4 separate regions of the Homo sapiens genome follow, and all the other regions are linked to region 3. The links come from fine-mapping of genetic effects on gene expression. A gene starts in region 3. Each other region holds a variant in brackets. All regions are shown on one strand. Distances are between the middles of the regions. Region 1 holds the start of LOC124904816 (small nucleolar RNA U13). Region 2 overlaps TMCO4 (transmembrane and coiled-coil domains 4). Region 3 holds the start of NBL1 (NBL1, DAN family BMP antagonist). Region 4 has its middle 8.2 kb from the start of CAPZB.

Evidence for each region. PIP is the estimated chance that this variant, and not a neighbour inherited with it, causes the effect.
Region 1: its variant is the best candidate, but not a certain one, in a credible set for the expression of NBL1 in thyroid (GTEx, PIP 0.81).
Region 2: its variant is the best candidate, but not a certain one, in a credible set for the expression of NBL1 in whole blood (TOPMed, PIP 0.78).
Region 4: its variant is the best candidate, but not a certain one, in a credible set for the expression of NBL1 in naive CD4 T cells (Schmiedel 2018, PIP 0.74).

The regions. Positions count from the first base shown.
Region 1 is chr1:19,530,423-19,538,569 of GRCh38, forward strand. It overlaps LOC124904816 (small nucleolar RNA U13), which reads right to left and starts at 1,852; the gene lies at 1,748-1,852. LOC105376819 (a long non-coding RNA gene) reads left to right here. Exons shown (of 4, transcript XR_947020.3): 4 at 1,079-1,365. The variant A/G (reference allele first, on the strand shown) is at 4,190.
Region 2 is chr1:19,683,646-19,691,360 of GRCh38, forward strand. The region is part of intron 15 of TMCO4 (transmembrane and coiled-coil domains 4); the gene reads right to left. Among named protein-coding and RNA genes, the nearest start is that of HTR6, 23 kb to the left of the region's middle. RefSeq lists an enhancer at 5,403-5,917. The variant T/C (reference allele first, on the strand shown) is at 4,689.
Region 3 is chr1:19,641,497-19,646,496 of GRCh38, forward strand. It overlaps NBL1 (NBL1, DAN family BMP antagonist), which reads left to right and starts at 2,815. Exons shown (of 4, transcript NM_005380.8): 1 at 2,815-2,950. All of the region lies in intron 1 of MICOS10-NBL1 (MICOS10-NBL1 readthrough), which reads left to right. RefSeq lists an enhancer at 1,827-2,662 and a silencer at 2,561-2,900.
Region 4 is chr1:19,489,835-19,497,665 of GRCh38, forward strand. It overlaps a transcript of LOC105376819 not described here. Among named protein-coding and RNA genes, the nearest start is that of CAPZB, 8.2 kb to the left of the region's middle. The variant A/G (reference allele first, on the strand shown) is at 2,085.

The DNA of each region.
Region 1 (8,147 bases), 110 kb before region 3:
TTATCAGATACTGAATTTGCTGATGTCACAGCCACTGGAACTGTGAGAAGTAAGTGGTTGTTGATTATAAGCCATGCAGTTGATGGTGTTTTTTTGTTATAGCAGCCCAAACAGACTAAGATTCACATCACGGGTTCTACCCCTTGAAAGTACATGACCTTCCCTTTCTAAGGTTTCTCATTTGTAAATGGGGAATAATAACAGCCCCCACCTCAAAGGGTTATTGGGATAATTAAATGAGATAATTAAATCCAAAGATCTTTGTAGTACTGGGCACACAGTAAGTGCTAGATAAAGGCCAGCAATTGTTGTTGTTATTATTATTATTATTATTATTGAGACAGGATCTCACTTTGTCACCCAGGCTGGAGTGCAGTGATGCAATCTTGGCTCACTGAAGCCTCTGCCTCCGAGGCTCATGGTCCTCCCACCTCAGTCTCCCTAGTAGCTGGGACTACAGGCACACACCACTACATCTGGGTAATTTTTTTATTTTTTGTAGAGATAGGATTTCACCATGTTGCCCAGGCTGGTCGCAAACTCCTGAGCTCAAGCGATCCTTCCGCCTTGGCCTCCCAGTGCTGGGATTACAGACATGAACCACTGTGCCCAGCTAGCAATGGTTATTTTAATTATAATGGTGTTTGTTCTTGAGCCCTGTAGCATATAATAGAGTTTTCCAACTGCACACAGTAATGGTCAATTAATAGCTGTTGAATGAGTGGATGAATGAATGGATGGATGAATTAGTGAATGAATCTTGCTATCACTGTCAATCTAGGACTCTTTTCTTCATACTAAATTCCCATTGTCCTAATGGCAGCAGGAGTTTTAGCAGCCTCAAGACTTTCAGGTTTCTTGTTTCTTTTTGATTTGATGAGGTGGTTTAAGATATGTCCACAATTTGACACTTCCTTCAAAAGGTGGACCCTATTTCCCTTCCTCTTGACTGTGAACTGAATTTAGTAACTCATTTGTAACAAACAGAATAAAGTGGAAGTGACAGTGTACAACTTCCAAGACCAAGGTCACAAAAGACCTTGAGGCTTCTGTCTTGGTCTCTCTCTCTCTCTCTCAGATTGCCTGCTCCTGCAGAGGGCTGCTGCCATGTCATGAGCACTCTCAAGCAGCTCTAGCGAGGGGTCATGTCATGAGGAACTGAGACCTTCTGCCAATAGCTGTGTGAATGAGCCATCATGGAGGCAGGTCCTCCAGCCCCAGTCAAGCCTTCAGATGATGGCAGCCCCAGCTGATGATTTGACTGCAAACTCTCATGCAACCAGGAATAAGAACCACTCAGCAGAACCACTCCCAATTTCCTGACCCACAGAAACTGTGAGATAAATAAATATTGCTTTAAGCTGCTGTGCTTAGGGATAATTTGTTACACAGCAATAGATAAGTTATACATTTTGTATGACTTTTTTTTTTCTTTTTGAGACAGGGTCTCACTCTGCCACCCAGGTTGGAGTGCAGTGGCATGATCACAGCTCACTGCAGCCTCAACCTCCCAGGTTCAAGCGATACTCTTGCCTCAGCCACCTGAGTAGCTGGGACCACAGTTGTGCACCACTACCCGTGGCTAATTTTTTATATTTTTTGGTAGAGACAGGGTCTCCTTATGTTGCCCAGACTGGTCTTGAACTCCTGAACTCAAGCAATCTGCCCACCTTGGCCTCCCAAAGTGCTGGGATTACAGGTGTGAGCCACCATGCCTGGCCCATATATGACTTTTTTTTTTTTTTCAGGTTAGACGGGTAATGTGACAATGTTGTAACAAGGTTCAGAGAGTGGCAGATCTCACACATACACATAAACACCCAATCATCATGCTCATGAACTGCAAAAGGATCTTATATGACTATTCTTGATAAAAGGTTGTTGAACGAATTCTTTTCTATCAATCCTTCCTCATGGAGACTTCGGACTGTTCATTCTCCATATTATGTTAGCACTATTCAGAAACCCTGAATCCCACACATTATTGGTGATGTTACTGTTACTAAACCATGCCTGCTAACTAATGAAGGACCCCCTACCCCTTAAGGTCTCAGGTGGGCTGCATCCTGACCTCCGATGAACACCAGACCTCAGCGGGATTGGCATCACCAGATCCCTGGCTGGGGAGGAAGATTCAGGCTCCATAACAAGCAGGCTTCTTTCCAGTCAGTAGCTCATATTTGGAAGGCTCGTGTTGTATATTTCAGCAGGGCCCATCTCAGAGAGAATATTTCCTTACTCACAGCTCTCACACTGTTTTAACAACAGCTAATCCTTTCACCTTATTTGGATGCGATGTCAGAATCCCTTCTGTGGCTGGCGAAGTCTCAGCACTAACTGGAGAGAAGACTTATAGGCCTTTGCATCTGAAGACAAACTCTGCCTGAGGTGGAAAAGAGAGGCTGGGAAGAGCGTTGAGGTTGACATTTGACAGCCTCATCAGCTCAGGGCTGAAAAAGACAAGCTGGCCAGGTGCAGTGGCTCATGCCTGTAATCCCAGCACTTTGGGAGGCCAAGACAGGCGGATCACTTGAGGCCAGGAGTTTGAGACCAGCTTGACCAACATGGTGAAACCCCATCTGTAATAAAAATAAAATAAATAAATAAATAAGATGGGCTGGCTAGCTCTCTCTGTTTCACCACGAGGACCTTAGCCAGGCTGTCCTAAGGGTATGGCGGTGTGGCTAAGGCCAGCCAGTTCAACAGTCTTTAACCAAGCATGTGCTATGCACCAGTCACTGTAGACAAGGCCAGCACACAAAGATGAGTAGCCAAGGTCCTTGCCCTTGGGGAGTTCATGGTCCAGTTGGGGAAGACAAGCAAACCAATTAGTAACAACAGTTCAGAGCAGTAGCTGCTGCATTCACTTGGCCAGGTGCAGCGGCTCTTGCCTGTAATCCCAGCACTTTGGGAGGCTGATGCGGGCAGATTGCTTGAGCCCAGGAGTTTGAGACCAGCCTGGGCAACATGGCAAGACCCTGTCTCAAAAAAAAAAAATACAGAAATTAGTTGGGCATGGTGGCACACGCCTGTAGTCCCAGCTACTTGGGAGGCTGAGGAGGATCGCTTGAGCCCGGGAGGTCAAGGCTGAGGTGAGCTGAGATTGCACCACTGCACTCCAGCCAGGGCGACCAGAATGAGAACCTGTCTCAAAAAAATAAAAAACAAAAAAACCCCAGAGCAGCAGCAGAGGTGTACTGCCACGCCAGGTGAACTGGGGGCACAAGACAGGGGAGGCCAAGGGAGGGTTCCTGGACTCTTGGAGGCAGTGTTTCCTGAGCTAATTGTGAGGCGAGAGAAGTAACCACACAACAGAGGCTGGGAACAGTTACCTAGGCAGAGGGAAGAGACTAAGCCAGGCCTCACCAGCAAGGCAGGAAGTGGAAGGAGGAGCACCAAGTGCTGGGTGAGGCTGGGGGTCAAGTGGGAGTGAAGTGGGAGGGGCAGGAAGCGTAGCTGGAGGAGAAGGAAGTGTCCAGCGGAGGAGAGTCTTGCATCCCACGATACAGAGCTAGCGTTTCATCTTGGACGTGATGGGCAGTCACTGAAAGGTTTTGAGCAGAAAAGGGACTCCATTAGGTTTGGGTTTTAGGATGTTCATTCAGTCAACCCTGGGGAGGGTGGATTTGAAGACTGGAAGCAGAGAGGCCAGTGAAGAGGGACGCTGCCATCACTTGTGCAGCCAAGTGTGATGAGGGTCTGGAAGTGGCCTTGGAGATGGAGAGGATGGGATAGATCCAGGGAATAACAAGGCTTATCAGCCAGGAGCCAAGTACAGGGAAGGGTATTTCCTGGCTGGAGGACTTTGAAGGCTGGGGCAGGGATTCCTCTGCATTCTTGGTCATAGCTTCTGAGACCTGGCTGGCAGGATCTAATTTAGCCTCCTCCGATCCCTTGTAGAGTCTAGCTGGAACACTAACTGCCAAACTGGATTTGATATTAGAAGAGGTATCACTAAAAGAGGTCTATAAACCCACACCCAGTGTGTGGCGAGGATCCCGCGACAGGATGAAGTGCAGATTTCTTGTGGAGTCTGCATTCTGGCTGCTTCTCTCCATCTGCTCTTGCCCTCACCTGGATCTCAGCCAACATCTTTTCTTGCCTAGACTACTGCAGTAGCTTCCTAACTGGGTGGCTCTTTTCTTTTAATTTCTCTTTCTTTTTTTATTTTATTTTATCTTACAGAGAC[A/G]AGGTCTTACTATGTTGCCCAGGCTGGTATTGAACTCCTGGGCTCAAATGATCCTCCTTCTTTGGCCGAAGTAATCCTCCCTTCTTGGCCTCCCAAAGTGCTAGGATTACAGGTGTGAGCCATTGTGCCTGCCCTTTTCCTTTCCTTTCTTTTTTTTTTTTTTTTTTGAGACAGGGTCTTACTCTGGCACCCAGGCTGGAGTACAGTGGTGCAATCATGGCTCACTGCAGCCTTGAGCTCCTAGACTCAAGCGATTCTCCCACTTCAACCTCTTGAGTAGTTGGGACTACAAGTGCATGCCACCACCATGCCTGGCTAATATTTTAATTATTATTTTTTTTTTTAGAAACAAGGTGTCACTGTGTTGCCTAGGCTGTTCTCAAACTCTCAGCCTCAAACGATCCTCCCACCTTGGTCTCCTGAGTAGCTGGGATTACAGGTGTGAGCCACCATGCCTGGCTGGTTGATTCTTTTCTACCCCTTACTTACTACTCTGGACCCCTACATTCGGGCCTAACAAGGCAGCCATTGTGACCCTTTAAAAATACAAATTAGATAATGTCACTCTGCTACTTAAAACCCCTGCAAGGTCTTCTATTATTGTTTAAATCCACCCTCATTTCCATGGCCTAGCAGCCTGTGTGTCTGCCCCCTGACCACCCCTCCAAGCTCCCCTCCTGCCCCACTGACTTGCTCCCTTGTCCCATCCACTGGCCTTCTACTGTTGCACAAATATACCAAACTATTTCCCACACAGAGCTACCTATTCACTCAGCAAGTGCTTATGAAACACCTACTATGTGCCACACACCGTACTTGGTGCTGAAGAGACAGGAATGAAAGGCATGCAAATCCCTGCCACTGGGAAACTTACATGCTAATGAAGAAAGACAGACCGTAAACATGACAAGTAAACAAATATAGTATGTCAGGCCAGATGTGGTGGCTTACGCCTGTAATCCCAGCACTTTGGGAGGCCAAGGCTTGAGAATCACTTGAGTCCAGGAGTTCAAGACCAGCCTGGGCAACATAGTGAGACCCCATCTTTACAAAAAAAAAATGAACAAAATTAGCCAGGCCTGTGGGGTGCACACCTGTAGTCCAAGCTACACAGGAGGCTGAGATGGGAGAATCACTTGAGCCCAGGAGATCAAAGCTGTAGTGAGCCATGATTGTGCCACTGCACTCCAGCCTGGGCAACAAGAATGAAACTCTATCGCAAAAAAAAGAAAAAAAAGTAGCAAAATTTCTTTGCTGTAATATAAGCTCCACTGAGGTTAGGAGCCCTGTGTTTTTGACCCATTATAAACCCAGACTTAGAAGACAGTTCAGCCAATTGTCCAGCAATTGTCCAGTACATGCTCAATAAATCACTGGCTGAATGAAAGAAGCAGGGACATTCTATAATTATGATTCCTTAAACCTTACGGAGTATGGAGAACTGTGTTTTGATGTGGGAGGAATAGCCCCAGGAAACTTGTGGCCATTGGGCTAGAGGTAGGAGAGGTAGAGAAGAACCTAACAAGATTTCAGAGAGAGAGAGGAGGAAACCTAAAAGAATGCCACATCTAAAGACTTGGGGTATGGCTAGGTGCGCTGACTTATGCCTATAATCCTGGCACTTTGGGCCGTGGTAGGTGGATCGCTTGAGCCTAGGACTTCAAACATCAGACCGGGCAACATGGGGAAACCCCATCTCTACAAAAACAAAAACAAAAATTAGCCAAGCATGGTAGCTCACACCTGTGGTCACAACTACTGGGGAGGCTGAGATGGGAGGATCACTTGAGCCTGGGAGGTGGAGGATGCAGTTGAGCTGTGATTGCACCACTGCACTCCAGCCTGGGTAACACAGTGAGATCCTGTCTCAAAAAAAAAAAAAAAAAAAAAAAAAGACTTGGGGTGTATTAATTATACATCAATAAAATTGTTTTTTAAAAAATATGTGAATTAGAATGGCCTTGAACTTCTAAATAATAACATTAGAAACTAGAAGGCAAAAAACAACAACAAATGGTATCTTCAAAATACTCAAAAGTCAGCTCTAGTTGACTTAATTAGAAAGGGAATTTATTAAGAGTGAAAAATATCATTAACATAGAATTTTATTCCCAGCCAAGCTATCAATTGGATGTGAGGCAGAAGGAACATAATTTCTTTTTTTCTTTCTTTCTTTTTATTTTTTGAGACAGTCTCACTCTATCGCCTAGGCTGGAGTGCAGTGGTGCGATCTCGGCTCACAGCAACCTCCGCCTCCTGGGTTCAAGCGATTCTCTTGCCTCAGCCTCCCGAATTGCTGGTATTACAGGCACGCACCACCACTCTCAGCTAATTTTATATATAATATGTGTGTGTATATATATATATATATATTTTTTTTTTTTTTTGAGACGGAGTCTTGCTCTTGTTGCCCAGGCTGGAGTGCAGTGGCGTGATCTCTGCTCACTGCAACCTCTGCCTCCTGGGTTCAAGATATTCTCCTGCCTCAGCCTCCCGAGTAGCTGAGATTACAGGTGTGTACCATCACGCTCGGCTAATTTTGTATTTTTAGTAGAGATGGGGTTTCTCCATGTTGGTCAGGCTGGTCTCGAACTTCCGAACTCAGGTGATCCGCCCCTCCCCACCCCGGCCTTGGCCTCCCAAAGTGCTGGAATTACAGGCGTGAGCCACCGCACCCAGCGGGACAAGGTCTTGCTCTGTCACCCAGACAGGAGTGCAGTGGTGAGATCTCAGCTCACTGCAACCTCCGCCTCCTGGGCTCAAGCCATTCTCCCACCTCGACCTCCCAAGTAGCTGGGGCTATAGGTGCACACCACCATATCTGGCTAGTTTTTGTATTTTTTGTAGAGACAGTGTTTTGCCATGTTACCCAGGCTGGTCTCGAACTTCTGACTTCAGGTGATCCGCCCACCTTGGCCTCCCAAAGCTCTGGGATTACAGGCATGAGCCACTGCGCCCGGCCAGTAGCTCATTTATTTTTATCACTGAATTAATATTCCATTGTGTGGATGTGCCAGTTTGTTCATCTCTTTACCTGTCAAAGGACATCTTGGTTGCTTCCGAGTTTTGGCGATTATGAATAAAGCTGCTATTCATGTGCAGGTTTTTGTGTGGACATGTTTTCACCATATTTGAGTAAATACCTAGCAGTGTGATTGCTGTATCATATGGTAAGACTATGTTTAGCTTTGTAAGAAACTGCCAAGTTGTCCTCCAAATTGTCTGTACCATTTGTATACCCAACAGCAATGAATGAAAATTTTTGAGGTCAGGTGCAATGGCTCATGCCTGTCATCCCAGCACTTTGGGAGGCCAAGGCGGGTGGATCATGAGGTCAGGAGTTCGAGACCAGCCTGACCAACATGGTGAAACCCCATCTCTACTAAAAATACAAAAATTAGTCAGGCATGGTGGTGCACGCCTGTAATCCCAGCTACTCAGGAGGCTGAGGCAGGAGAATCGCTTGAACCCAGGAAGCAGAGGTTGCAGTGAGCCCAGATGGTGCCACTGCATTCCAGCCTGGGCGACAGAGCGAGACTCCATCTCAAAAAAAAAGTTTTTGTTGCTCTGCGTCCTCACTTGCATTATCAGTGCTTCGGATTTTAGCTGTTTTCACAGATATGTAGTGATATCTCATTGTTGTTTTGATTTGCAATTCCCTGATGACATACAATGATGAACATCTTTTCATTTGCTTATTTGCTATTGTCTTTCTTCTTCTCCCTTTTTTTAAAAATTTTTTTTATTTGAGACAAGGTTTCACTCCCATCACCTAGGCTGGAGTGCAGTTGTGGGATCTCAGCGCACTGCAACCTCCACCTCCCGGACTCAAGCAATTCTCCAGCCTCAGCCTCCTGAGTAGCTGGGACTGTAGGCGCACGTCACTATGCCTGGCTAATTTTTGTATTTCTATTGAAGTTTTAGTAAAGATAGGTTTTCGCTGTGTTGCCCAAGCTGG
Region 2 (7,715 bases), 44 kb after region 3:
ATTAAATAAAGATGAAGGATGTTTCTCTAAAAAATCTGGATCCTTTTGGGGCAGGAAGGAATCTCCTGATAAACAGAAAGGTGGAGTAGAAGCTCTCGTTCTTTGTCTGAAGCTTTTTTTTTTTTTTTTTTTTTTTTTTTTTTGAGACAGGCTCTTGCCCAGGCTGGAGTGCCGTGGCGCAATCTTGGCTCACTGCAACCTCCACCTCCCAGGTTCAAGTGATCTTCTTGCCTCAGCCTCCTGAGTAGCTGGGATTACAGGCGTGTGCCACCATGCCAGTAATTTTTTGTATCTTTAGTAGAGAAGGGGTTTCACCATATTGGCCAGGCTGGTCTCGAACTCCTGGCCTCAAGTGATCCACTGGCCTTAGCCTCCCAAAGTGTTGGGATTACAGGCGTGAGCCACTGTGCCCGGCAGCTTTTTTTTTTTTTTTTTTTTTTTTTAAGGGATGGGCTTTTTGTTAAAATAGCATGAGAAAAAAGAAAAATGAAAACAGAGAGAGAGAGAGATGGGTTCTCTCTCTCTCGTCCAGGCTGGAGTGCAGTGGTACAACCATAGCTCACTGCAGCCTTGACCTCTTGGGCTCTAGTGATTCTCCCACCTCAGCCTCCTGAGTAGCTGGGATTACACGTGCATGCTACCATGACTGGCTAATTTTTAAATGTTGTAGAGATGGGGTCTCCTATGTTGCCCAGGTCTTGAACTCTTGGCCTCAAGAAATCCTGCTGTCTCAGCCTCCCAAAGTGCTGGGATTACAGGCCTGAGGCACTGTGCCCAGCTGATGCCTGCAGCTCTAGGCTACTCCAGAAGGGCTCTGCTGTTCACTAGTTGTGACACCTTGGTCAAGCCCCTCTACCCCTCTACCCCTCTGGCTCTCAACTTCCTCCGCTGTAAAAAGGGGAACACAAGGGTAGTTTCACCAGAGGTTGGCTGTGAGGATTTTCCCTGGAAAAGTCCTCAAATTGGAAAGAAAGCTACAGCATAGACTGCAAGGTGCTGGCTACAACTCACTCTGCCGTTTATTCTTTAGTCACAAGGACTCACATTTATAGCTGGGCACACTCCCCAGGCTTCCTTGCAGCTAGGAATAGCACTGTGACTAGTTTTGGCCCATGAGTTGAAGCGGTAGTGTGATGTGGTGTTCCTTGGAATTCTCTTTAAGAGGAGGAGTGCTCTTCTTCCCTCATGTCCTCTTTCCTGCTGGCTGGAATTCAGACGAGATGGCCAGAGCTTGAGCAGCCATCTTGGGCCATGAGTCAGCCCACTAAGGAAGGCAGAACAAGCAGCAAGAGGGAAATTTGGTCCTTGAAGACTGTGGAGTGGCACATCAGCCCTAAATGGCCTATTCTGATTTCTTTTATGTGACAGAATCAACCCTAGTGTATTTAAGACAATTAGGCCAGGCACAGTGTCTCACCTCTATAATCCCAGCACTTTGGGAGGCCAAGGTGGGAAAATCACTTGAGCCCAGGAGTTTGAGACCAGCCTGGGCAACATGGGGAAACCCTGTCTCTACAAAAAAATACAAAAATTAGCTGGGCATGGTGGCGTGTGCCTGTAATTCCAGTGACTATGTAGGCTGGGGTAGGAGGATGGCTTGAGCCTGGGAGGCTGAGGCTGCAGTGAGCCCTGATTGTGCCGCTGCACTCCAGTTTGGGCGACAGAGCAAGACCCTGTCTCCAGAAAAAACAAACAGACAAAAAACATTAGCAGGGCCTCTGTTATATGGGTCTGCATCTTAACTAAGACAAAGGCCAAGAACTCAGAAGTGGCCACCCCCTTCGTCAGAGTCATACGTTCATCCCATTTTTGTGTTGGGATATGTTGGTGAGCAACAAGTAGGGGTGTGATTGAAATGCCTGATGCCTAGATGTAATAATGGACAATGCCTGACACGTAGTAGGTCCTTAATACATTGCAGCAAATAAGCTTCTTGGATATACTCCTTTGCTAGGTGTCGGCTGCTCACTGTAGATGAAATTGAGCCACACGGAGGTAAAGTGACTTACCCAAGGTCACACAGCTAGAACTTGGCAGGGCTGGGATTTGAATCCAGGCCTGTTTCTTTTTTTTTTTTTTTTTTTTTGAGACAGAGTCTCGCTCTGTTGCCCAGGCTGGAGTGCAATGGTGCAGTCTTGGCTCACTTTAAGCTCTGCCTCCTAGGTTCATGCCATTCTCCTGTCTCAGCCTCCCGAGTAGCAGGGACTACAGGCATCTGCCACGGTGCCCGCTACCATGCCCGGCTAATTTTTTTTGTATTTTTAGTAGAGACAGGGTTTCACTGTGTTAGCCAGGATGGTCTTGATCTCCTGACCTCATGATCCACCCACCTCGGCCTCCCAAAGTGCTGGGATTACAGGCGTGAGCCACTGCGCCCGGCCATCCAGGCCTGTTTCTAAAGCCTGTTCTCTTCAGAGAAAATCAGCTGGGGAAGGAAGGAAGGTTAAAAATCATCCTCACTTTACAGAGAAGGGCAGCAAAGCCCAGAGAGGGGTGGCGGTTTGCTTAATGACACACAGCGCATGAACAGCACAGTCTGGTGCTGAGCCTGAGATGCTGCCTGCAGAAGCTGCTCAGCCTGGATCTGCCCCTGAGATGGAGTCTCACGTTATACCCAGCCAGTCGAGGGGGCCTGCTTTAGTGCCAAAGATGCGCATGAGACCGGACTTTCCTTTAAGGCTGAAGGGGAAGGCTTTCTTTTTAAAAAAAGGACAGGAAAAACACCAGGGAGGCTGTTGTTGGGAATCTCAGAAAACAGCACAAAGACACTGCTGGTAACATCTGCATTTCCATTTGAATTGCAAATCACACTGTATTAATCAAATGATTTTTCAAAAACACGAAAAGACAATTCCCTGTACAGTTTTGTTATTTTCTCACCACTAGAATCTGCCCACCTCTCGTTCCTTTCCTCACGAATGCTTTTAAACAGATTCCAGGGAAAATACACACACGTGTATTCACACATCTAAGTGGTTTTCAGGGCCCTGGGCTCAGGGTGGTTGTCAAGGCACAGCCAGTGCCCCTCTGCAGCAGGACACATATTTAGTGGCTGCAGGGCCTGAGAAGGAACCTAAGTTTGGACTCTCTGAAAAGCTGGGGTACCAGCCTTGGCTCTGTCTCTTACCAGTAACTGGGCCAGTCCTCACAATTTCCTGAACCACAGCTTCCCCATCTGTAAAATGAGAGTCATGACCTTGAATGATTGCTATAAGGAGTTCAAGGGCCTGGCACTTCATAGGAACTCAGAGAATGCTAGCTTTTGATATTATGTTCCTATATGATCCAAAACACTTTTTGTTTTTCTTAATTTTTTTTTTTTTTGAGACGGAGTCTTGCTCTGTTGCCCAGGCTGGAGTGCAATGGCATGATCTTGGATTACTGCAACCTCTGCCTTCCAGGTGCAAGCTATTTTCGTGCCTCAGCCTCCCAAGTAGCTGGGATTACAGATGTGCACCACCACACCTGGCTAATTTTTGTATTTTTAGTAGAGACAGTATTTCACCATGTTGGCCGGGCTGGTCTCGGACTCCCAACCTCAGGTGATCCGCCTTCCTTGGCCTCCCAAAGTGCTTGGGATTACAGGCGTGAGCCACTGCACCTGGCCTTTTAAATTTTAAATGTAGAGATGGGGACTTCTTATGTTCTCCAGGCTGGTCTCAAACTCCTGGGCTCAAGAGATCCTCCTGCTTCAGCGTCCTAAATTGCTGAGACTATAGGCATGAGCCACGATGCCCTGCCCCAAACACTTTTAAAGAGACATCATGCAATTTGAGTTAGTGATACCTACCTAAAGGAGTTGCTGGGAAGAAATAATACAAACCATGAAGCACAGTGCCTGGCACCCCAGGAGGTACTCTGTAAATATGAGTTCCCTTACCTTAGTTTCCTACGAGTGGGGGATGGAGAGTAGGGAGTTAGCTGGGCTGATCCATTTGGGAGCCCAAGATGGCTGCTCAAGCTCCAGCCATCACATCTGAATTCCAGCCAGCAGAAACTTCAGACCCACAGGGACAAGTGATAACTGCCTCTCTAAGGACAAACAAGAACTGCCTCCCTATACCTTTTTAATGTTGTAGATGGCTGGTGCCAGTGCTGGGTAGAAACAGGCCAGGAAGGAAGGGAGGTGTTGGTACCCACTGGCTGCAGCTGATACCAGATGGAAATTCCACTGAGAGCTGTCCTAGAACACACAGCTCTGGCCCTCCTCGACTACAAGTTGGTCTGGGTCTCAGGCAACCCTAGTCCCTGAGCCACCCCTCTGCAAAGACCCAGGGGAGCAGTTGCTGGGCAGAGCTCTGGTTTTACAGTTAGCTGGAGAGATGAGAGAAGAGGGGTGAGGCAGGTCGGGAAAGAGCCTCTTCTCAGCACCAGAAAGTTCTGGTGTAGCCGATACTGCGTGAAGATTCAGCCCCTGACCATCTCCCAGGCTGTCTTGATTGAATCTGCCAGCTGCCTGGATACACGCCGGATGTGACTGGCGTGCAGAAGCCTTCCGTGGCTTCCCGTGTTGGCAGGGGCCTCTGTGGACACCCTGTGATGGCACTCATAACCTGTCATCGTCACATGCTCATGAGGTTGCGTTCCCTGATAAACTGAGCGCAGGGGAGCAGAGACCACTTCTCACTCACCTCTGTGCCCCACAGCCAGCCCCGCACATCGTGGGGTTTCCGTGGGAACCAGATCCC[T/C]GCAGGTACAAATGGGGCCCAGCCCTTCCTGTTTCCTGCCTCAAAAGACACCCCAACTTACCCAAACAGAGGCTGCCATCACCCACCTCCATCTGCCCCAGTGACTCCTTCCAAGCCCATCAGGCCCCTTTGGGTTCTTTCACTTCTTGGACCTCAATTTCCTCATGTATAAAATGAGGCTAATAAAGAGACCTATACCACGTGGGCTGGCTGTGTGGCTTTGATAATACATGTAACAGGCTTATTGGCACAGGGTTAGAGGCCACTACCAGAAGCTACAGAGATGTGTGAATGCAGGCAGTACTGAAGCAGTGGTTAACAGCCCAGGTTCATCCGGCTCTACCACTCACATGCCGTGGCACCGCCTGCAGCCTCAGTTTTCACACCTGTACAACGGGTTACTACCACTATGCAGGACCTCTATGAGGATCAAATGACTTACCCCGTAAAACATGTGAGTTGTTGGCTACTGCGGTTATTATCAAGTATCTACTTTGTGCCAAGCCTTTTGCTAAGTTCTAGGCCACCTGGCATTTCTGCTGGGACATGGAGAATCTTGCCGTGGGTTGGATCTCTGTGCCCCAGAAGCCTCATGAGTTGGTCCCTGGGGTGGCAAATCCCCCACCCACTGTAACCTTGTCCCTGTGAGGAGAGACTGAGGGGCAGGAGGGCAGCTTCATTCACCCCAGAGATGCGCCCTGCCTGCAACAGGGCCAGCCCAGTGGGATGATCACAAAGGGCCCTGCTGCGTGGTTGGCCCAGCAGGGAGAAGACAGGTCCTGTGGGTCTCTGTTGGGAGCAGAGGGTGGCCAGCATTTCCCCAACAGCAGTAATGAAACCTCCCTTGCCAGCAACTTCTCCAGCAAAGCATTTTCAAGGAAAACAGGAGGCCAGCACAAAGGCAGTGCTAATTACCTCTAATTACCCAGAAGAGGAAAGCACTGTTTTTTGTGATGTACTCCTAATGTGATAAAGAGCTATTATTAGGCAGGAGCTGGGAAGCTGCCACGAAGACAGCCTGAGGAGGGAGCGGAGTCTCCAAAACTGCTGGTCCCAGAGGCAAACAAACTGGGGGTGGTGGCAGGGGCAGGCCGGGAGGGACTAGGATTAAAGGAGGGCCTACTATGCACCAAGCATCTTACATGCGCTGCCCTGGAAGTTAGGCGTTTCCACCATTTCCTAGATGAGGACACTGAGACACAGAGAGGTTAAGTAACTGGCCCAAGGTCACACAGCCAGTAAACCAGTGGCAGAGCCAGGATTCTAAGCCATGCCTCTCTGGTGCCAAAGGCTGTGCTCTTCCTACCATATCCCATTCCCAGTAGAAATCAGATCTTGTGAGGGCTTTGCAGCATTAAAAGCTACTTTCTTCAGCAGATGCTTTTTATCTCTGATTCTTCTGGCAAAGGGAGACTCCTGGGGTGCTGAGGCACAAAGTCCCTGCTCCCTTTCACCCCATTCAGGGTGCAGGCACCTTGAATAGGACAGAGAGCCCTGGACATGGGTCAGGAGGCATCAGCTCTGAGCCCTGTTGATGGTGACAGGAGGCAGCCAAATGCCTAGGCAGACGGGGTGGGTCCCTGGTGAAACCCCACCTTCAAGCCAAAAAAACAGCCTGAAGGCTGAAAGACTGGACTGCTGGTCCCACATGAAACCTGTGACCCAGAGTGAGAACTTCTGTTCCTGTTTGCCCACACTTCCCCTATTCTGAGCCCATAAAAGCCCCAGACTCAGCCACATTGTGGGGACTTTCCTGCCTTTGGGTAGGGGAACCATCCACTCATCCCCTCTCTGCAAAAAGCTGTTTCATCACTCAATAAAACTCCTCGCCTTGCTCACTCTTCAATTATCAGCGTGTCCTCATTCTTCTTGGATGCTGGACAAGAGCTTGGGACCCACTGAGTGTGGGTACCCAGAAAGGCTGTCATACTGGCCTTTTGCCCTCATCAGTGGAGGGCAGCTGCCCCACGTGATGGGGTCAGGGGCCGACTGAGCTGTTAATACACCACCGTCTATTGGGCCGTCAATGGTGGAACTAAAACAGCTAATTAGCACACTAACGCCCCCTCTGGGGCTTCAGGGTTGTGGGTACCCCTGCCCAGGTGCTGCCACTTTCCCCTCGAGGCAACACGCCTGGTCTGGCCACAGGCCCAGCATGGAGCTTGCTCTTGTGTCGGTGTTTGGAGTGGTCAGCCAGAGCCCACACTTGCTCATTCATGTGCTTCCTCCTGCAAGGGGCTGAGTGTGGTGGACCGAGTAGATGGGGTGCCCCTGCTGCAAGTGTGGCCAAGGGGCTGAGAGAAAATTCCTGTCACTGTGGTTTGCTGGTCTTGTGACTCAGCTTACCTCATTCCCACAGAGAAGTGGGCAGCACAGCTTCCAAGCTGGGCTCAGAGTCCAGACCTACAACTCTGGCTATGACTCCATGCTCCCAAGTCTCAGTTTCCCAATCTATGATCTGGGGATGCTTAATACCTCCTCTAGGGAGTTGCGAGGTTTACAGCATGTGAGCCAAGTCTATCTGTGAAGACTCTTTTTTTTTTTTTTTTTTTTGAAACAGAGTCTTGCTCTGTCACCTAGGCTGGAGTGCAGTGGTACCCTCTCGGCTCACTGCAAGCTCCACCTCCTGGGGTCATGCCATTCTCCTGCCTCAGCCTCCCGAGTAGCTGGGACTACAGGTGCCCACCGCCACACCTGGCTAATTTTTTGTATTTTTAGTAGAGACGGAGTTTCACTGTGTTAGCCAGGATGGTCTCGATCTCCTGACCTCGTGATCTGCCCGCCTTGGCCTCCCAAAGTGCTGGGATTACAGGCGTGAGTCACTGCACCCGGCCCCTGTGAAGACTCTTTAACCAGGAGCAACCAGTTTCATAAATGGATGAGCCTAGAAATGACTCTTATTCTACCCCAGTCCCCAAAGCTCCCAGTTAGGAAGGCACAGGGTGGCTTCATTTGTGATCCTCTGGTGGGTTAGGAATTTTGTCTTAAGGCCCTGGAAGTTTAGGGGTGAAGATACAAGTGAACTGG
Region 3 (5,000 bases):
CAGCTCATCAGGCTCCACAATTAGCTTTCTGCAATGTGGGAGTGGATTCTTACAAAATGTAGAACTCTACTTTCTACCCTGCTCGGGGTCTGCATGAAAGATGGCGGGGGTAAGCTTTGGCTGCAAAATGGTAAATATTTCCTGAGTGTCTACTGTGTACAGTGCAGTGAGGCTGGTTTCTGCCGTACATGGTATATAGTTATCCAACAGACACTAGCTGGCATGGGCTCTTACTGTGTGACTTTAGGCGAGTTACTTAACCTTTCTCTTGACGTTCCTTTTTTCACTTTTTTTTTTTTTTTTTGAGACAAGGCCTTGCTGGAGTGACAAGCTCATTAGGTTCCACAATTAGCCTTCTGCAATGTTGTCCAGGCTGGAGTACAGTGGCACAATCATAGCTCACTGCAGCCTCAAACTCCTGGGATCAAGTGATCCTCCAGCCTCGGGATTTTTTTCACTTTTATTATTTTATTTGTTTGTTTGTTTATTTATTTATTTATTTGAGATGGAGTCTCACTCTGCCTCCCAGGCTGGAGTGCAGTGGTGCGATCTCGGCTCACTGCAACCTCCGCCTCTCAGGTTCAAGTGATTCTCCTGCCTCAGCCTCCCGAGTAGCTGGGACTACAGGCACACGCCACCACACCTGGCTGATTTTTGTATTTTTAGTAGAGAGAGGGTTTCGCCATATTGGCCAGGCTGGTCTCGAACTCCTGACCTCAAGTGATCCTCCTGCCTTGGCCTCCCAAAGTGCTGGGATTACAAGCATGAGCCACTGCGCCTGGCACTTTTAAAACAGAGACAATACTTACCTCATAGGTTTATTGTGAGAGTGGCAACAGCTTGCAATGGGATGAGGCACATGGTAAGGTGCTCAATATGTGTGAACTATTATAACGGTCATAGTTACCATTAAGGGAAGACCTATCTGTGCTACATTAATGGGGGATAATAATTACTTTATTCGCTGGGCGTGGTGGTTCATGCCTATAATCCCAACACTTTGGGAGGCTGAGGCGGGAGGATCACTTGAGGCCAGGAGTTGGAGACCAGCCTGGGCAACATGGCAAAACCCCATCTCTACTAAAAATACAAAAACTAGCTGGGCGTGGTGGTGGGCGTCTGTAATCCCAGCTACTCGGGAGGCTGAGAATTGCTGGAACCTGGGAGGCAGAGGTTGCAGTGAGCCGAGATCACGCCATTGCATTTCAGCCAGGGCAACAAGAGCAAAATTCTGTCTCTAATAATAATAATAATAACAACAACAACAACAACAACAACAACTTCATTCAACCAAATACATTGTACATCTCACCTGGCCTGCCCATAAGCAATGGAGACACTGAAATAAACACGATTCCTGCCCTCAAGGTCTAATGGAGGAAAGAGATGTACACAGCTATTCTAGAGGGAAATTGACATGAACAGAAGTTCTCATCCTGTGCTCCAGGATCACACTGGAGGAGGGAGATGCTCCCAGAGGGTCTTGGGAAGGCTTTCCAATCTGGAGCTGGAAGAATGTTTGCCCAAGAGATGTACACAGTTATTCTAGAGGGAAATTGACATGAACAGAAGTTCTCATCCTGTGCTCCAGGATCACACTGGAGGAGGGAGATGCTCCCAAAGGGTCTTGGGAAGGCTTTCCAATCTGGAGCTGGAAGAATGTTTGCCAGAGATGAAAGGAGGGGAAGGGAATTCCGGGCAGAGGGAAGGGCGCAGGCAACAGCTAGGAGGCGCAGATGCAGGCTGGGTGTGGAGGGTGCGAGTAGGCTGGAGTACACCAGGGAGTTCCCAGCAGGCCACTAGGAGCCACCCAGGATGCCCGGCAACCTCATGAGTCAGACAAGCAGGGCTGTGTCTATCTGGAAGTTTCCAGCCAAGCTAGGTAAAACACATGGACACAGGTAACTATGCTGTAAAGCAAAATCCCCAAGTCCTACAATCGTGTCCCAGTGGTGTCCCTGGGCCACCACTTTCCAGAAGCAAAGTTATTTTCTCACCCCGTTGTTAAGCACACAGAATAGAGAAGGTACGGCCGCAATCCACCCAAGTGCCCACTGATTAGATAGGAACCCCCGAGGTGAGGCTGGAAGCTGGGGCCAGGAGCTCCACTCTTCCCAGGAGTCAGAGAAGTGAGTTCATTTGCTGGCTTTTTAGTTCCTAATAAGTCCCTGGGGCTTTTCGGGATGCTTAAGCCAAGGGCGTGGGGCCGAGAGCGACACTAGGATAACACTAGGCAAGGCTGAGCAACCCAGGCTACCAACAGCACGGACTTGAACCGGGTCGCATGCCGGAGCGGACGGGATGAGGTGCACCGCAGAACTGGGGACTCCTGGTGCCGGGACGCGGCGGGCTGGGGCGCCCCACTCTCGGGGCAAGTCTGCAATGCCCGGTGCCCACAAAAAGGACACATCCATCTTTGTCACCCCGAGGCCTGGCACGGCCTGACGGCCCAGGCTCGGTAAAAGTCGGGCGGAGAGAGTGGAAGCGCAGAGAAACCCGGGGAGGGCGCTTAAGAACGGGCCAGGGCGCCCGGCTGGGCTGCCCTGCCTCTCGGGCGCCGGCCAGGCGTCCCGGCCGCCCCACCACGCCGTCGGAGCGCGCCGAAGCTCAGCCCGGGGCGGGCGGGCCAGGAGAGGGCCCGGGGCCCCTGCCGCCGCGGCGCCCCCTCCTGCGCACCCGGAGGGAGAGGCCGCGCGCGCCCGCCCGCTCTTTCTGCGCGCGGCCCTCCCCGCTGCCCCCGCCCTCGCGCCCTGTTTGGAGGGAGCCACCCTGACGTCGGAGCCGCTCCCCCGCGCCGCGCGCCCGCCCGGGGCCGCAGACAGCGCGCAGCGCAGCCCAGCCGAGCGTCGCGGGGCCGCCCCCCGCCCTGCCGGCCGCCTCGCCGAGCCTCCTGGGGCGCCCGGGCCCGCGACCCCCGCACCCAGCTCCGCAGGACCGGCGGGCGCGCGCGGTAAGTCCCGCCCGGGTCGGCACGCGGGCGCCCGGCTTCCAGAGGCTTCGGCCGCGGGGGCAGTGCCGCGCCCCCAGCCCGGAGCTGCGTCCCCCGGCGCGTCCGGCGGCCGCGGGCACCGGGTGGAGGCGCCGCCGCCGAGCTCAGGAGCCCTGGGGGACCTGGCGGGCGCCTCCGGACGCCGGCGCTGGGGACGTGGGCGCGGCACGGGGTGGCCGGGGGGCACCGCCGCGTCCGGAGCCCGTCCCCAGACTCGCCCCAGGGTTCCGTTTCTGGATCGGAGTTTCCGCGGCCGGGGGAGAGAGGGAGCGAGGGAGGGAGATGCGTGGCCGGGCGGGCCGGGCTCGCATGTCCCCCGGCCGTGCCCGGGCCTCGCCGCGCCGCGCCTCTCGGCTCTGGACGTTTCCGCCTCCCGCGGCCCCCTCTGCTTCGGTCCCCACGTCCGTGTGTCTGTCTCTCCGTCGCTCCGTTTCCGCCGCTCACTTTCCCCTGGTCTGCCCGTCTCTTTCCGTTCCCCGCCTGCCTCCGTGTTCGGCTGCCCGCGTTTGTGTCTCTGCCTCTGGCTTTTCTCTCCCTCTCTCTGTCTCTGCGCTGCCCTCTGTGGGGGTCTCGCCCTGTGTCTGCGCCTCTCCCTGATCCCCCGCCCTCCGATCCAGACAATCCCCCAGTGTCGGAGGCTCGCCTTCCCCCAGCGGGGTTCACGAATAGTTTCCTAGACCGGGTGCGGCAAACCCTCCCCCTGCCTCCCGCCGGCCCCGAGGCCTGGCCCGGGTCATCTCCCTGGAATTGAGTCTGGGGCAGGGAGAGCCAGCCTTTCCGGGGGCTCAGTTTTCTTAAGAATTCCACCCCCGCGAGGCCGGCTGGACGACAGGCCCTGCTGCGGGCCACCTGCCCGGCCCGCTCCCAGGGCGGGGCGATTCTGATCGTTTACAAGCGGCGGCAAAGGGGGCAGCCGCCTGCCTTGGCGTGGCCGGAGGTTGGCGGGCATCAAGGGAGAAAGCCACACTTCCAGGCTTTCGGAGGCCCTCGCTCCCCAAGCTGGACGCCACCAGCCTGTAACTAGGGGCACCCCAGGAAAACAGAGGTCAGGGCTGGAGGCCAAAGACCGGGCGCTGGCGGGGAAGCAATTTGTCAACAAGGAGCCCCTCACCCTTTGTTACTGCGGAATGGGGCCTCCCTAGACTCCCCCAGATGCTGGGGCTGCTTGGGCGTGGTTTGCCTTGAGTTGGGGCCAAAGAAAAGGCGAGGCTGCAGCGTTTCCTCGGTGACCCCTACCCCTCTCCACCCACCCCTGCAAGCTGGACCTCTCTCCCGGGCCTGTGTTTTGGAGGGGTGGACAGGGGAGTAGGTGTTCTGCATCGGCCAGGGATATCGCCTCATTATTTTAAAGTGAAATTTCAGGCTGAGTTTAGCTGCTTCCCCCCACCCACAACCTCAAGGGTCGGAGGCTGCCGGAGCGGGCAGGGTTGTTGGTGAGGTCTGCAGTGGAACTTCTGCTGAGCAGATGTGCAGCCTGGCCCTGCAGCAGCTCATTAGCATGGATTTGTTTTGGAGACTGTTTTTCGTTTGCGGGCAGGAGGGTCTGCGGTAAGGAGGGCCGTGGCCTGGGTTTGGGGGCTGGCACAGAGGTGGTCAGGGCTGGAAGATGCAGGCAGGCCTGGGTGGCACGGGGTCGGCCCTGTGTGTCCGCCCTCTGGACAGTTGACTCATGCTCTCCCCAGTGCTGAAGGAAGGAAGGAAAAGCCACCCTGCCGTGAGACTGGGGTCGTGGAATCACAGCGGCCTTAAGCAGTATGCTGGAGCCAGGCTCCTCCCTGGGGGATCTGCTGAAATGGACGTTCCCAGGCCAGGCTGCCCATTTTACAGATGCAAACGTGAAGCTGAGGGGGGAAGCAAATGGTCAGTGGCTCGAGCTATAACCATTAGACTCTCCTGACTCCAGGCACACAGAAAGCCAATGTATGAGCTTTGGCCAGAACTCATCCTCAAACCCCAGAGTGAGCCCAGGAAACCCGGTTGGGCTGACCAGAGCCGGGGCCTGACCTGGGTG
Region 4 (7,831 bases), 150 kb before region 3:
AAAATACCAAAATTAGGTGGGCATGGTGGCACATGCCTGTAATCCCAGCTACTCAGGAGGCTGAGCCAGGAGAATCACTTGAACCCAGAGGTGGAGGATGCAGTGAGCAGAGATTGCACCACTGCACTCCAGGCTGGGTAACAGAGTGATACTCCATCTCAAAAAATAAAAATAAAAATAAATAAATGGAGATATCAAATAAGTAATTAGATATGGAAGTTTGGAGTTGGGGGAAGAAGTTAGAGCTGTGATAAACTTATGAGAACTGTCAGCTAGTAAATGGCATGTAAAGATACTTGAAAGCACAGACATCTTGGTGAACTCACTTTGTGGGTGAATGTAGAGAGAAGAGGTCATGAAGATAAAGAGGAACCAGCAGAAAGACTGAGAAGGAATGACCCGCGAGGCAGGAACAGGACCAAGAAAAGGTGGTGTCCTTCTTGGATACCAAGGGATGGAGGCCAAGCCTGAAGGAAAGTTCATTCACTGGACAGGTCACTCCACAGATTGGCTGCCCACTGCTCAGATCCTGCCCCTAGATCCATCAGCTATTGCTATGAGCATGGAGACACATGGCATTAAACATGGTCATCTACAAGGGGTTGTGAATTGGTATGCAGGCACTATAAATTTTGTTTATTTTAAAATTTTTTGGCCAAGCATGGTAGCTCACGCCTGTAATCCCAGCACTTTGGAAGCCTAGGTGGGAGTATTGCTTAAACCCAGGAGTTCGAGACCTCACTGACAAAGTGAGACCCCGTCTCTATAAAAAAGTCAAATAATTAGGCATGGTGGCACATGCCACTGGTCCCAGCTACACAGGAGGCTGAGGCAGGAAGATTCCTTCAGCCCAGGAGATTAAGGCTGCAGTGAGCCATGATTGCACCACTGCATTCCAACCTGCACAACAGAGTGAGACCCTCGTATCCAAATAAATAAATAAATAAATAAATAAATAAATAAATAAATAATAACTTTATAATTTAAATAGGGACGGGATCTCACCATGTTGGTCAGACTGATCTTGAACTCCTGGGCCCAAGTGATTCTCCTGCCTTGGCCTCCCAAAGTGTTGGGATATCAGGTGTGAGCCACAACATCCAGGCCATAAATATCTTTAGCAATGTTTCTCGTCTCATCCTCTTTTAAAGACCCTAACCCCCTTGAAGTTCATACTGTGATATTTTTCCACCTGCCACACCCTTTTTTTTTTTTTTTTAGCTTTCATGAACTTACCTCCATCTCCCCTTCTACACTTTCTTTAGGACTTCAGCATCCATAAGCATAATCCACCAGAAATCTTACTGACTTCTCCCTGATTTCTTCCCTACCAATCAGTTTCCTTTGCCTCTCTCCAGGTCCCACTCCTGTGGTCTTACCCTGGCCTGTTCTCGCCTTTAACTGCACTATCTCAGAAATCACAATCACACTGGCCAGGCATGGTGGCTCATACCTATAATCCTAACACTTTGGGAGGCTAAGCCCAGGATTTTGAGACCAGCATGGGCAACATGGCAAGACCCCATTTCTATAAAGATTTTTTTTTTTAATTAGCCAGGCATGGTGTCATGTACCTGTGGTCCCAGCTACTTGGAAGGCTGAGGTGGGAGAACCTCTTGAGCCCAGGAGGTTGAGGCTGCAGTAAGCTGTGTTTGTGCCACTGCACTCCAGCCTGGGCAACAGAGTGAGACCCAGTCTCCAAAAAAGAAAAGAAATCACAGTCACAAAGATCTCAAATCTGAGTCTAACCCGCTTACCATAGTATCACCACAAAAGCATTTCCTCAACCTCATTATTTCTTCAACCTCATCAAGACCTGCAAACCTTTGTCCCTGCCAGATTTTCACAATTACCTTCCCCTTCATGCTCACATCCCACCTGACCCAGCTTAGTAATGAGTATGATACTAACTCCCTTACAAAAGCCCAGAACCCTTTTACCTCCACCTTTTTTCATCAGAACATCTGAACATTGGCTGGGCAAGGTGGCTCATGTCTGTAATCCCAGCGCTTTGGGAGGCTGAGATGGGCAGATCACTTGAGGCCAAGAGTTTGAGACCAGCCTGGCCAATATGGGGAAACACT[A/G]TCTTTACTAAACATACAAAATCATCCAGGCATGGTGGTGGGCGCCTGTAATCTCAGCTACTCAGGAAGCTGAGACAGGAGAATCGCTTGAACCCGGGAGGCAGAGGTTGCAGTGAGCCAATATCACGCCACTGCACTCCAGCCGGGGTGACATAGTGAAACTCCGTCTCAAAAAACAAAACAACAACAACAACAAAACCATCTGAACATTGCTGGAAAGTTGAAAGTGATTGCTCTTCCTTTAAGGTGAGGTCCACAAATTTCAAACGAGCCCTCAAGCCTGCCTAGCAATTCTACTGTATTACTCCACTGTAGCCCCCTGCTCACACTCTTAAATGGTGATTTTTCATCCTTCTTCCTCCTCAAGCTTCCTTTGTCCCCTTTGCATCCTTCTCTCTAAGCAGATGGCCTTGCCTCACACTTCACAGAAATAATGGAACCAGACAGGAGCTTATCATCTACCAACATCTCTGCACCTTCCCCGCAATCTTTGACTCCCCAGATTTTACAATAAATGAAGCGTTTTTGTTCCTATCAGAGTCACCCCTCCACTTGTTCTCTGGATCCTTCCTTCCTTAGTCACCAGTTTCTCCCTTGGTACTGGATCATTCCTATCTGCTTCAGAAAACATGCTCTAATAGCTCCTATCATAAAAAAAAAAAAGTTTTAAGAACCACCACTCAAAACTCCTGGATCCTGCGTCTCCCTGTAGCCACTTCCCCCATTTTTCTGCTCTCATTCACACCAAAACCTTGTAAATTCTTTGCAGTTGTTGATTCCACACCTGCTCCATTTTCTCCTCCAGTCAGTCTGATCAGGCCTCTGCCCCCACCTGCCCAGGAAGAGACATTGCTCTCCTCAAGCTGACCTGGGAACTCGATGTTGCAGAAGCCAGTGCTCACTTTGGGGACTCATCTTACTCCTGGCTTCTCCTCCTTCATGTACCTCTCTTGGCTTGCCTGAGATCAGTAAGGCTACCACATCCCAGCACATAGCATGGCAGTTACACATAGTAGGGGCCCATAAGCATTTCCTGATTGGAGGCAAGGTGGAAAGGAAGCCTTCTCCTGGTGCTCAAGTTTCCCCTGAGTTTCCTTTGATGGTTCTTCCTTTCCTGAAGGCTTAGTTCTGGGACCCTTGTTCTTCTGCATCTGAGTCCTCTTTTGGTCATTATGGACCTAGGTGTTCACCTAGAACATAATCAGTGCTCAATGAAGGTATGTGAATGAAGATAATAGTATCAACAGGATAAGATTATTGTGTGAATAAACAAAGAATGAATAATACAGCTACTTTTTCATGAGTACTTGCTATGTGCTAAGCACTTTTTGTGTATTATAGACTCCTCCCAACCATCCTTTGAGTTAGGAACTTTTTTTTTTTTTTTTTTTTTTTTTGGAGACAGGGTCTCAGGTTGGAATGCAATGGCACAATCTCGACTTACTGCAACCTCCGCCTCCCAGGCTCAAGCAATCCTCCCAACTCAGCCACCTATGTAGCTGGTACCACAGGTGTGAGCCACCACTGCTGGCTAATTTTTATATTTTTTGTAGAGACAGATTTTTGCCATGTTGCCCAGGCTGCTCTCAAACTCCTGGGCTCAAGCGATCCCCCCACCTCAGCCTCCCAAAGTGCTGGGATTATAGGTGTGAGCCACCATGCCTGGCCAGAACTTTTATTATTACCAATTTATAGAAGAAGTTGGGTCTTAGATGAAATGACTTGCCTAAAGTCACACATAATACGTGGATGGATTTATTCTCACTTTGGTCTTCCTGACTCAAAATCTGTTCTCAGAATCACCAGATTGAGATCATAGGTAGGAAAGGGCTTTGTAAGCTGCAAAAGGCAGTGCTACCACATCCCGGCACATAGAATGGCAATTACACATAGTAGGTGCCCATAAGCATTTTCTGAATTGAGGCAAGGTGGAAGGGAAGCCCCAAGCCATATAATACCATCACCTGAGGAAGGAAGCAGCAACCTTGAGGTCCTTGAAAGACAGCCTTCTACCCTATGCCAAATCAGCTCATACAGGACCCATTAAAGCAGACATTGCCCAGAAGTTGCCCAACATCTGTCTTTCCTTCTTCAATTACATCTATTAATTGGGTTAATAAATGCACAGTTATCCCAGGAGCTGGGGATTGCCTAGCTCCTAAATTACCTCCCGTCTAACAGGTCTGGGCCTGTTTCCTAAGTTGGGCATCTTCTCAAGTTACTAACACGGTTTTAGGTGTTTTACCGTGTCTTTAGAAATGCCTGAGAACCCTTAGAATAAGCCAGATTTTAACCCCTCAATACACTGAATTCTACAGCTAGCCGTATTGCCTGAACATCCTAACTCCATATACTGAAGTTTCAATGGGATTCAATTTAAGAATCTTTGTTACCGGCCGGGCATGGTGGCTCATGCCTATAATCCCAGAACTTTGGAAGGCTGAGGTGGGCGGATCACCTGAGGTCATGAGTTCGAGACCAGCCTGGCCAACATGGTGAAACCCCATCTCTACTAAAATACTTAAACTAGCTGAGCGTAGTGGTGTGCACCTGTAATCTCAGCTACTCAGGAGGTCGAGGCATGAGAATTGCTTGAACCTGTGAGGCAGAGGTTTCAGTGAGCTGAGATCACGCCACTGCACTCCAGCCTGGGTGACCACAGAGACTCTGTCTCAAAAAAAAAAAAAAGAATCTTTGTTACCAAGAGTTCCAAGAGGGAGGGAACACCACATGGCAAGGCCATCTGCACCATCATTCAGTTGGCTTCGAGGTCACTGCTGGGGTACCTCCCAGGTATGAATACCGTCTCTTTCCTACAACTTAACCCTGTCTCATTTTCAGACATTTAGTTTGGGTGGGGTTCAGCCCACCCCCAGCTCTAGAAGAGAGGATTCTGATTGACCAAAGTCAAAGTATAGCCTTGGCCATGCTAATTGGTTTGCAGATCAGCCCCTGACCTAATTTGGGCCAGGGTGCTTTCTGCGGAACAGTAATCAAAATGAACTCGGCCTGAAGAGGGGCAGTTCACCAAGTAAGTTTGGGAAATCCTGTAAACAATATTCCCTCTTGGGGATTTTATTTTCTCAAGAACCTTACACTTCAATTATCCTGTCTCTCCCCAGATTGTTCAACTAATGATTACTGTGGTTTTAAACATGCCTAAGTGTTCTGATTTTTTTTTTTTTAAAGAAAGAAACCTACGTGAATTCCTCATCTTCTCCAGCTTACCGCCACCTCCTCCCTTTCCCAGCTGGAGAATTGTCTGTGTTTCCTCCTTCCACTTCCTAACCTCCCATTCGCTTACGTAACTCCTCCACTGAAATAGCTCTGAGGTCACCCATAACCTTCATGTTGAAGGTCACATGCACAACTTTCTTTTAAATTTTTTTTTTTTTTTTTTTTTGAGACAGGGTCTCGTTTTGTTGCCCGGGCTGGTCTCAAACTCCTGGGCTGAAGCACGAAGCACTCCTCCCTTCCCAGCCTCCCATAGTGCTGGGATCACAGGCATGAGCCACCTTGCCGGGCCACATGCACAGTTTTCAAACTTCACCTCCTGTAACTTCCCAGTAGCCTCTGGTGCTTTGGCCACGTCCTCCCTCCTTGAAGCACTCTTTCCCATTGGCTTCCATGACATCATGTGACTCTCCTAGTCTTAATCCTACCTCTACGCTCCTTCTCTGGGTTCTCTGGAGACTCCTTCTCCTCCACACACCTACTAAACGATGGAGTTCCTTGAGATTTGGTAGCAGGTTCTTTCCTTCTCTAACTTTGCCCTTTTTCCTTAGGCAATTTCAGCCATGTTCATTTCTTCAGTTACCAGTGGCCTCAGCCCTGGAGCTGGCAGATGGGGACCTGATGATCAGGGAGGGAAACTGTTTCCCTGATGATGGGGGAAATCAGGATACTGTTACCAAAAGAAGGAGAAGGGCTGCTGAAAAGTAGAGAGAAGGAAAGAAAGAAACAGATGGGCATTACGGGCATCCTGAGTAAGCTCTGGCAAGTGAATGAAACAGACTTATTTGTGGTCTCAGAAATTTCTAGTCATTGAAACCTTAAGCAGGACTGAGTACAGGCCAAAAAAAAAAAATGCTGATTTCCTTTGAAGACAGAAAATTGTGTGGTTTGTAGAGGAGGCAGCCTCAGCTAGACAGCTTAGATCAACTTTTTCCAGCCTTCAGCATCTTGAAAGTACATGTAGCAGGGAGCAGGGAGGTGGACAGACCACTAGCAATCCACTTCTTTTTAATGCATCCCCAAAGTCTTCAGTGCCAAGAGGATACTTTACTCTGAGGTTAGACACAATCATCTCAGGGTTTTTGCTTTTGCTTTTCTAATAGGTACCTGGGAGAACTCACAGCTGCCTTCTGCTGGACCAGAAGTATTTGTATCCTGACCATCTACGGGGTCTTGGTCAGAGTTATGGAAGGGCCTCTCACATGCAGGCCAGCTGTTGGAGTTTTTATATGCATATTTGGGAAACTTCACGTTTAGTGTATTAAGCTGGCCAGCCAGTCACCCACCAGGGTTGGGCTGGACTCTACAATGTGTCTAATGCTGACTCTTCCTTTAGATTCAGCATAATCACCCTCTTATCCTGGTAATATCTCTGACAGTCCCCTCAAAAGCTGGGTTTGGGACCCCCTGTTCTGTGTTGCCATGGAAACTTCTACTTTGTGTACCTTATCAGATCACTTTTCACTTGGTCCCTACTGCGCTATGGCTCCTTGAGGCAGGGACTGTGAGTCATATCACTAACAATTAGCATGGAACCTGGGATATGGCACAATATGAATGAAGCCTGTCAAATTGTGAGCCAGAGAACCTCCAGTCATCCAGGATGCAAACCTCAGCCATCCTCTACTTCTCCAAAATCCTCATCTCTCATTCCAGTCAGACACTGCAGTGTTCCAAATGAAGCTAAACTACATGCAGAACTGACATAGGACCTGATAAAGTGGTAGGACTTGAGAAAAATCTAGTGAAAGGCTGGAATAAAAGATCAGAGCAATGAACAATTGTAAAATAAATTTAAATATCTTTATAATAATATCAAAAAATATAAAATACTCAGGAGATATAGATATATATATATTTTTTTTTTTTGAGATGGAGTTTCACTCTTGTTGCCCAGGCTGGAGTGCAATGGCATGATCTCGGCTCACCGCAACCTCCGCCTCCCAGGTTCAAATGATTTCTCCTGCCTCAGCCTCCCTAGTAGCTGGGATTATAGGCATGTGCCACCATGCCCGGCTAATTTTGTATTTTTAGTAGAGACGGGGTTTCTCCATGTTGGTCAGGCTGGTCTTGAACTCCCGACCTCAGTTGATCCGCCCACCTCGGCCTCCCAAAGTGCTGGGATTACAGGCGTGAACCACCGTGCCCGGCCACTCAGGATATATTTAATGAAAGATGTACAAGGCCTGAAAACAAGAAAACATTGCCAAGATAAATTAAAAATCTAGATCAATAAGATGTACCCTATTTATGGATTGGAAGATTCAATATCATCAAGATGTTCATTCTCCTGAAAATGTACCATAAATTCAATGCAATTAAAATCACAATCCCGGCAAGTTTTTGTATATAAACTCACAAACTGATTCTTTTTTTTTTTTTTTTTTTTGAGTCAGTGTCTCACTCTGTCACCCAGGCTGGAGAGCAGTGGTGCAATCATTGCTCACTACAGCCTTGACCTCCCAGGCTCAAGCAATCGTCTCACCTCAGCCTCCCAAACAGCTGGGACTACA